Regions from separate parts of the Homo sapiens genome. Here region 1 is linked to region 2. Evidence: fine-mapped QTL for protein levels in blood plasma. A gene starts in region 2. The other region holds a variant in brackets. All regions are shown on one strand. Distances are between the middles of the regions. Region 1 overlaps IL18R1 (interleukin 18 receptor 1). Region 2 holds the start of IL18R1 (interleukin 18 receptor 1).

Evidence for each region. PIP is the chance, under the fine-mapping model, that this variant and not a neighbour inherited with it causes the effect. The UK Biobank Pharma Proteomics Project read protein levels with antibody pairs (Olink). The fine-mapping took linkage between variants from a reference panel, not from the people measured, so its PIPs are less certain.
Region 1: its variant is fine-mapped to the plasma level of the IL18R1 protein (UK Biobank, PIP above 0.99).

The regions. Positions count from the first base shown.
Region 1 is chr2:102,382,078-102,387,077 of GRCh38, forward strand. IL18R1 (interleukin 18 receptor 1) reads left to right here. Exons shown (of 11, transcript NM_003855.5): 7 at 2,801-2,921; 8 at 4,784-4,923. Among named protein-coding and RNA genes, the nearest start is that of IL18R1, 29 kb to the left of the region's middle. The variant A/G (reference allele first, on the strand shown) is at 3,061.
Region 2 is chr2:102,353,127-102,358,126 of GRCh38, forward strand. IL18R1 (interleukin 18 receptor 1) reads left to right here and starts at 2,670. Exons shown (of 11, transcript NM_003855.5): 1 at 2,670-3,274. RefSeq lists an enhancer at 2,439-2,940 and silencers at 2,535-2,644, 2,665-2,724.

The DNA of each region.
Region 1 (5,000 bases), 29 kb after region 2:
ACCTGACCAGCACGGTGAAACCCCATCTCTACTAAAAATACAAAAATTAGCCAGGCATGGTGGCATGCACCTGTAGTCCCAGCTACTCAGGAGACTGAGGCAGGAGAATCTCTTGAACCCAGGAGGCAAGGTTGTAATGAGCTGAAATCACACCACTGCACTCCAGCCTGGGCAACGGAGCAAGACTCTATCTCAAAAATAATAATAATAATAACAATAATAAATTTAAAAATTCCGTGAGAGCACTCTGGAGAGATGAGTCAAACTAATTTTGTGGTGTGAATGTTTGATTAATTGATTCACTTTGAATCAATTGACTGAATTGATTGTATATTTGGAGTTTGTCTAGATAAGTCTTATGAATCAACATGTCCAATTGAGTAATTTCTTTCAAAAGAGAAAGGAAAGAAAGAAAGGAAGAAATTCACATATGCTAAATATGCTAAGCCAGGTATCATGCTAGGTCATTGAAATATATTGTTGAATTAAATCCTCCAAGCAACACTGAGGCATGTATTCTCATTTTATGAATTAAATAATTGAAGTGCAAAAAGGCTAAGTAACTTGTCTAAAGTTAAATCACTAAAAAGTGGCAAGTCTCTGTTTGGGGACTTTGCTTCCAAAGTCCCCACCTTATAACCACAGTTGGGGTCACAGTGGTTTATATGACCACATGGGCCCAGTGCAGCTGGGTCCTATGCCATTTGTACATGAGGTTTACCTGCTTTATATTTTTATTTATTTCTGTCTTTGTCTTTCTTATTTTTTTCTTCTACTCAGTGGGGCTTAACTTGTATCTTTTGTTCTAGTTTGTTGACCTGAAGAGTTAGATAATTAATTTTAATTATCCTCTGGTAGTATATACCTTCAAACTCCAAGTTTCCCTGTAAACACTACTTTAGCTGTTTCTCATATTTTCATTCTATTCAGTTTAAACCATTACTTAAAATTTCCCTTATGATTTCTTTTTCCAACAAAAAAAATTGGTATTTCTTAATTTCCAAATATTTGGTGAACTTTCTAGTTCTTGTCTCTTATTCATGTCCAGTTTAGATTCATTATAGTCCAAGATTATACACAGTGTCATTTCAACCTTTTGGAATTTGTAGTGACTTACTTAAGGCCCACAGTATGGTATATCTTGCTGAATGTTCCAAGTGCATTTGAAACAAAGGTATATTCTATAGGTTTTTGTTTTATTATTCTTTAAATGTCTATTTGGTTAAGTTCATTAATGGTGTTGTTCAAAAAATTTATATCCTGACTAATCTTTTATCTGCTTGTTCCATGTGTTGCTGAAAGAGATGTGAATATCTCCAGCTATTATGGTCAATGTGTCTCTATCTCCTTTAGTTCTGTCAATTTTTGTCTTACATAGTTTGGAGCTATCTTATATGCATACACGGATTTATGCTCGTTGAATTAACACTTTTATCATTATGAAATATCTCTCTTTATCTATCATAACACTTCCTCTCTCAATGTGTAGCTCTGTCATATGAAATAATCACACAAGTTTTCTTTTGCTTGGAATTGGCATATTTGTCTTTTTTTAAACATCCCTTTACTACTAACATTTTTTTTTGTTCTATACATAAGTGTCTCTCATAAACTGCATGTATTTGGGTCTTTTTTGAAATATGGTCAGTATGGTGTTTAGTCCATCTGTATATTTAAAATTACTGTTACAGTTGCTATATCATATATGCATGATATACAAATATTCAATTTATTCTTTTTAAAATAAATTACACTTTGTTGAAAATGACCATATTTCCATCCACTTGTTTATCTTTTCCTCTATTTTCTTTCAAACAGTTACAGTTTTTAATCTGCTAAATTCAGCATCTGTAGGTCTGCTTCTATTAGCTGTCTTTTCTATTGATTATGGTGCACATTTTCTGTGTCTTTGTATGTCTCTTAACTTTTTATTGTTGTTGATCTTTATGTATCAAACAATTAAAGTGAATACAGTTTGTGTTATTTTTTCTTACAAGTAGGTAGCCTGAGAGTTGAGTATCTCAGTTGACTCAGAATTGAGTTGGGGTGGCTGGGATGTAGGTATGTTCACTCCAATCTGTCTTCATCTCTGATAGCTGGTGAGGGAGGGGGTGCTGCAGTCATGTGTTTGATGCAGGCCTCTTCTCTAATGAGACTTGCTCTCCTGATTACCATGAGACTGCAAGTGATATCATACAGCCTTTACATCCTTTTACGCTGTCCGAGCGCTTAGCAGTAATTCTGCAAGCCTGTGCAGCTGCCGAGAGCTTCACTGGATTTTCTTGTTTCTATGAGACTCTTTCTGTTAATTACAAACCAAAGCAAATTCTTCCATGGAATGAAATGGCCACCTATCTTAGCTCACCCTAGAAAGGATCCTTCTTAAGTACGCTTGTAGTTCAAAAATTTCTCTTTATTTTCTCTGTACTTTGATGTCTTTAATGTTTGCTTAATTTAATTTTTTTGTGATTTATCCATTTGGTTTATCTAGAAGTCTCAGTGAGAGTATTGTCCTGATGCTACGAAAAGAAAGTACACTGATCACTCTAAGTTTTAATAGTTGATTAAAAAATAAATGTTTAAAAAGAAGCCAAATCATGTTTTGATGATGACTTGTAATTGCTACCTATTTCTTCTGCTTTATATATTTTGTTTTATTTAAAGCAAGGCATATTTATTCTCTTTCTGGGATGGAGCACCACGTTTTGCTTTAGGTTAACATACATTGATTATATTGTTTTGAAACTTTTAAGAAACCTGAGTTTCAAAAATCAGAACTTTAGTTGCCAACTTTTACCAGGAAAAAACGTAAGGCTCAACTGCTCTGCTTTGCTGAATGAAGAGGATGTAATTTATTGGATGTTCGGGGAAGAAAATGGATCGGATCCTAATATACATGAAGAGAAAGAAATGAGAATTATGTATGTATGTGTAATATATATGTCATGATATATACCATATAACAATCATATATATTATATATAACATCATATTAAAAACACTGGGTGGCTGATGTGTATTTTGGGCTAGTTTAAATTATAATTATAATGGACATATTTT[A/G]TAATTATAGTGGCCATACCCTAGGTGGACGCATTATGCAGAAATGTATTGCCAAGATCTAAGCTGGAAAAGAAGGTCCATGAGAAGGCCATTGAGGGTATTTAGCATCACCTTATAAAGTAGCACTTGGTCAGTCAGGATCCGATGGGGATGGGGATTTTACTTAGCTTCTTAGAAAAGGGCAGTTGCCTAGGCCAAGCTTTTTTTTATTTTGAAAAATTTGTTAAGTTGTTTATTTTTCTAATGGGCCAAAAAGGCTCCAAATGGCATGCATATTGATAGTTAAATAAGCCTATATTCTTCCATTAAGGAATGGTCAAACTTATAAAAAGAATCAGTCTAAACATATAGTCACCTAAGCTTTTCTGAATGACTTTGGGTCATACTGTAAGTATTCATTATTATACTGATACACTACTCAGGGTCTAGTGAGTGCTGAGCCTAAGTTGTCTACCACCTTTGCTGCACTTGTTGAGTTTTTTCTTCTGCTTTTTACACATTTTTTGGTACCTTCTTTGTTACCATGCTTGCAGCTCTACATTCTTGCTGACACTTGTCTACAAGCTCTTTACACCACAAAGTCTGGCTTCTTGCCCGGGAGCAGGCATGTGGTTCATGCCCACTACATGTTGAATTCATTTGAAATTTGTGGATCTCCTGCCATCATATCTCATCCTCAGCCACTGGCCTCCATTTGAGTTTTGTATTTCTCCCTTTGGATAATCTCTTTCTAATTTTTAGAGGGGTAGAAAACCACAGTGAATTTCTTAGAAATGCAGCTTAAGCTACAAAAGCAGAGAGGTCTTTCTTTATAGTTGGGTGCACACACCTTTGATATCATCTGTTTTGTCCTCTCAATGGCCTCCTGTGTTTTACTTCTGGATTTCATTGGTTTTAGATGGTTGTTATTTCTGGATGGGTGACTTAGGAAAAGAATTACATTCCAAAATGTACTTGAGGCAGTTGGAGGCTACAGTGGGGCTCTGTGTCCCGGGTCCTAGATATCCCTGTTGCTAGGAATGTGGGCACATGGGGCCCATGTCTGGCTGTGTTGACTGGTGTAGCTATCAGAGCCTGTCATTGGTGGGGGAAGTGGATGTCATAAGTGTTTACCTGGCATCAACCACAGGACAACTTGAATCCTTTAAGGAAGAGAAAAAGAACGTGCTGCCAGTGGCTTTCTCAAGTCATTTTCTGACACTCATGGAACAACTTAACTGGCACTTCTCATGTGCCTCGGGGTGCTTGAGAACAGTGTTATGTTTTTTAATGCTGAACACATTAAACCAGTTTGTTGGATTCCATGGACAAATGTAATACGAATCTGCATCTATGCTAAACAACTTACAGCCTTGTCATAATTAGTGGGAACCACTCTGTGGAAAGAACCCCAAGTTGTTAGGAAGAGAGAAGTAGAGAAAAATAATTGAGAGAGAATATTTTCTTATATTTTCAACTTAGCATCATGATCTTCCAGCCATTTAAACTTCAGGTAATTGACAGCACCATTCCCAAATGGCCTCAGGAGGGCTGTTTCTGTCAGTTCTGATGCTCCACGGAGGAGGGGACGTTTATTGTAGTCCATGCTTTAAGAGTACTGGCCAGAAAGGGAAGAAATAATGCAGGCAACATCACAGCTGCCTTCAAGCATTTTAAACATGTGAATTCCCCTCTCAAGGGTAACGAACAGAGCCTACTGCTAAATTATTTTGCCCTCTTACAGGACTCCAGAAGGCAAATGGCATGCTTCAAAAGTATTGAGAATTGAAAATATTGGTGAAAGCAATCTAAATGTTTTATATAATTGCACTGTGGCCAGCACGGGAGGCACAGACACCAAAAGCTTCATCTTGGTGAGAAAAGGTGAGAAAGATTTATTTTTGGAAGTTTTGAAACTTAGCTCATTGCTACTGAGAGACATTTCAAAGATGGCCACTTTC
Region 2 (5,000 bases):
AGAATATTATATATAATATAATATATATTTTATATAGAATATTATATATAATATAATATATATTTTATATAGAATATTTTATATATATAATATTATATATATGTATTTGAGACAGAGTCTCCTATGAACATACTTGTGGACTTATGATTTTATTTTGACACTTAAGAGTGGTCATAGGGTAGGTGCATATTTAACTTTCAGAGAAACTTATACATTGTTTCGCAAACTAATTGTACTACTTTACATTCCCACCAGTTGTGTATGAGAGCTCTGCTGCTTCATTGCCTCACCAATAATTGGTGTTGTCAAGTTTCTTTATATTTTAACAATTTTCACAGGTGTTAGATGAAGATCACCATGGTCTTAACTTGAAGTTCCCCGACTCATGATGATGAGCCCTTTTCATGTTTTCATTGGCCATTCGTATATATTTTTTAGTGAAGGCAAAATATTTTGCCTTATTTAAATTGTATTTCTTTTTATATTGTTGATGTGTAGGAATTATTTATGTATTGTGGATGCAAGTTCTTTGCCAGATAGATGTAAAGTGAGAATATTTCCAGGGTTATCTATTCATTTTTAAGTGATGTCTTTGTTTAGTAGACATTTTTAATTTTGGTGATGTCCAATTAATCAATGTGTCCCAAATGGCTATTTTTTTTTGTGTCCTAGCTAAGAATTTTTTTTTTTTGCCTGTCCAAGAGCATGATTTATTTATTTATTTTTTGCCTGTTCAAGGGTCTTCTCTGTATTTTTATGAAATATTTACGGTTCTAGCTTTTATGTTTAGGTCCATGGTCTATTGTGAATTGATACTTGTATATAGAACAAGGCAAGGACAAAGTTCTTTTTTCTGCTGCTGCTTCTTCTGTAGAGGTACCCAGCTGTTCCAGCAATGTTTGTGAAAGACTGTTTTTTCCCCACTGAATTGACATGGTGCTTTGTTAAAAAAATCAATTGACTAGATATGTGTGGATCTATTAGTCTACTTTCTATTTTGTATGTTTGTATGTTTCTGTGAATATCACATTGCCATAATTACTATTGCCTTATTATAAATCCTCAAGTCAGTATAAGTCTCTCAACTTTGTTCATCTTTGTCAAGATTGCCCAGACAGGCCGGGCAGGTGGCTCACCCCTGTAATTTCAACACTTTGGGAGGCTGAAATGGGTGGATCACCTGAGGTCGAGAGTTCAAAACCAGCCTGACCAACACGGAGAAACCCTGTCTCTACTAAAAATACAAAAGTAGCCAGGCGTGATAGTGCATGCCTGTAATCCCAGCTACTCGGGCGGCTGAGGCAGGAGAATCGCTTGAACCCGGGAGGCGGAGGTTGCAGTGAGCCGAGATCGCGTCATTGCACTCACTCCAGCCTGGGCAAGAAGAGCAAAACTCCGTCTCTGTCCGGACAATCCTAGATTATTTGCATTTTCATATGAATTTTAGAAACAGCTTCTTAATTTCTTTGAAAAATTTTCCTGGGATTTGGATTGAATTGTATTAAATATATAGATTCTGTAATATATAGAGTCTAAAAATATACAGTGTGGAGAATAGATGTCTTAAGTCTTCCAATCCGTAAACGTGGTATATCCCTTTATTACTTAGATGTTTCATCTCTGTTAGCAATATTTTGTAGTTTTCACAGGAGATATCTCATATATTATCCAATGAATTTATACTTTGGTATTTTGATTTTTAAATGCTATGGTAAATGGCATTTTTAACAAACTTCACTTTTCAAGTTTCCATCTCTAATATATAGAATTGCTATTGATTTTTATATTCCATGATCTTGATAAACTTAATATTTCCAGTAGTTTTTTTTTTTGTAGATTTCAAAAGTTGGTCTACATATAATTATGCTCTCTGTTAAAACCAGTAGTTTTAATTCTTTCTTCTCAATCTTTATGCTTTCTAATTTTATTTTTATTTCTTCACTTGTTGCAAAGCAGTTGTCCCAGGTGGGAGCCAAAATCCTTATCTCATTACTAATCTTAGGAAAAAGTAAAATGTTTCACTATTATGAGGTCACCTGTAGGTTTCTTATAGATGTTCTTTATCAGATTAAGAAAGATCATTTCTACTCTCGGTTTTCTGATCGTTATTAATTCAGAAAGGGTGTTGAATTTTGCCAGATGCTTTTATTTGCATTTATTGAGATAATTACATATTTTTATTTATTATGTGGTGAATTATCTAAATTGGGTAAAAAGAATTAAAATCATTGTCCAATTGAACATTTTGCCTGTCGGCTATGGGTTTCCCTTTTCCTTTGGTTAAATAACAGTTCTGCCACAAAATAAAAATCTAGAAACACACATTCCCCTTTGGCCTCCTTAAAAAAAATTAAAACTTCAACAATTGCACCCCTCTCTATTACTTCCCTATAGTGAACTCCCATCCTTCTGGGAAAGCAAAAAGCCTGGGGCGCATTTGTGTACTTGAGACGCGGAGCCCCTCTCACCTTCGGCATCCCCCGGGGACCCCTCTTCCACCCTCAGCCCTCCCCTCCTCTTCCTCTGAAGAGCCGGGCGGCCGCTGCGGCCAGCGGTCCTCCCTCCTGGCATCCTCTGCTGTGAACCGCGGCCTGCAGGGTGCTTGCGAGCGGCCCGGGCGCGCCCCCTTCCGGCCCCGCAGGTCACCCGGCTACAGCCCGGGTTTTCCCGGGACCCGCGCCGCGCGGCTGGGCAGGAAGCGCCAGACGCCTGGGGCCCACGCCGTCCGCGGGAAAAGGGCAAGGCGCTGGGTTTTCCAGCAGCAACCTTTGGACCCCGCGATCCAGTAGCTCCGGTAACTCCACGCGGGGCGTCTGGGTGGAGGAGCCGGTCCTGGAGCACGGCTGCGAGGAGCACCCGGACCGGAGGGTCCCCAGACCGGGACCTCCGAGTCAGGGAGGATTCTACGCCAGGGAGCGCCCCAGACTGAGAGCGCCCCAGACCGCTACACTCCCGGACCCGGAGCTTCGCCCGACCGCGGGCAGTGCCCACCTGCAGCCTCCACCGGCCGGGGTTAGCAGCCAGGAGCTGCCAGACGCCTGACATTCTTCTTTCTGTTCCTACTTTTTTTCCTTCTTCTTCTTTTTTTTTTTTTTTGTAGCCCTCTCTGGGTGCCTTATCTCTTTAATCACACCTCTCTTTCACTTTCCACGGTAGTCAGGAGGCGGAGATCGCTGCTTCTCACCTACTTTCTGAACTTGGCCTCCGCAGTCGCGACCTGGCGTGAAGGAGGAGCTGCCGCCCCCGCCCCAGCCTCGGGGACGCCTCTCTGAAGGTAAGGGTGGGCTCCGCTGCCACCCGCATCCCCTCCCCACCCCCCAGAGGAAGGGAAGACCACCATCCGGGGAGGGATTCTCAAAACAAGATCAATTAAGAGAGAGAGAGAGATAGTGTGTGTGTGAATACGTGTGAATAATTGATGAGACAGCATCCTGTCTTTCTCTGAAAGTATAGTTTTAGAAATTAAGACATCCCCAATTATTTTCTGGAGAGGTGAGAACGACTGAAATAAATGATAACAATAGTTGTCATTTTTTAAGTGCTTACTGTGTGCCTGACACTGTAGAAAATTTTTAGATATCTTATTTTCACTTAATCCTCCTAAGGGCCACATGAAATAGGAACTATTATTATGCTTTAATAAAAGGGAGGAGGAATTCCGTCATTTACCCAAGAGTATCCAGCTACTAAGTAGTAGATCCCAGATCCACACCTACAGTTTTTCTGATTCCAGAGCCTTTGTCTTTTTTCTGCCCAGCCTTGGGAAGTTAAAATGCCCAGCACCTTGCATCGCAGTTATCAGACAAATTAATGAGGTGTCAATTGCAGCCAGATACAGAGATCCAAGATTATTGTATTCATTTCACTGACTTCCCTTGCTTCATTCTCAAGACCCTTTGCAAATACTGATTTTGTGTCATACACAGTGCTGCTATTGGGAGCACACCTCTCAACCTCAGGGCCTTGGATGGGCTAGGAGGGGTAAATTTGGGGAATTGGGTTTGTGCAGGTTCTGGGGACAGTGTTTTCCCTCTCCCTGCACAAATATACATCCAAAGGCTGAGAACTAAGGCTAAGGCCTAGGAATGTGGATTGAAAAGGCAGGGTCTAAATCCCAGCACTTGGGAGGCTGAGGTGGGCGGATCATGAGGTCAGGAGATCGAGACCATCCTGGCTAACATGGTGAAACCCCGTCTCTACTAAAAATACAGAAAATTAGCCAGGCATGGTGGCATGCATCTGTAATCCCAGCTACTCGGGAGGCTGAGGCAGGAGAATCCCTTGAACCTGGGAGGCAGAGGTTGCAGTGAGCAGAGATTGTGCCACTGCACTCCAGCCTGGGCGACAGAGTGAGACTCTATCTCAAAAAAAAAAAAGAAAAAAAAGAAAAGGCAGGGTCCCTGCCTTCAGGGACCTCACCAGAGAGTGGGAGCTAGTCCAGGAGTGATGGAAACACCTGCAGAGTGATGGAGACGGGCTTGGACATAGGCATGTGCCATTTGGGGCTGTTGCAGTTGGAGAGCTTCCTTGAGAAGGCAAATACTGAGCCAAGTTGAAAGGACTCTAGGGACCTGGCATCTGGGATAAGTGGGGAGGGTGGCCCAGGTAGCACAGGCATAGGCAGATTTGGGGGGAAGCATAAGGCTAACAACAGACACTTGTGTGACAAGGACTATGAGGTGGCATTGATTTTCTTGGCCTTACAGATGAGAAGCCAGATTCCACACAAATTATTTTGTTTGTTAGAGTTTAAGCGTGTGTGTGTGTGTGTATGTTATGCCCCAAGATCATTTTCTCCTCTTTGCATTTGGTTGTTTTATCATCTCACAGGCTGAGTAAAACGACTATGCATGGAACACTGTAGAAGAAAAATTATATTAAAAAAAAACTGGTGTTATGATTTTCATCCAGGCATTTTGTCTCAGGAGTTGCTCGATTGTATGTGTTGCTAATGAGTGATTTATATTGAGGCATCTACATTGATTCATGTGTGTCCTTGT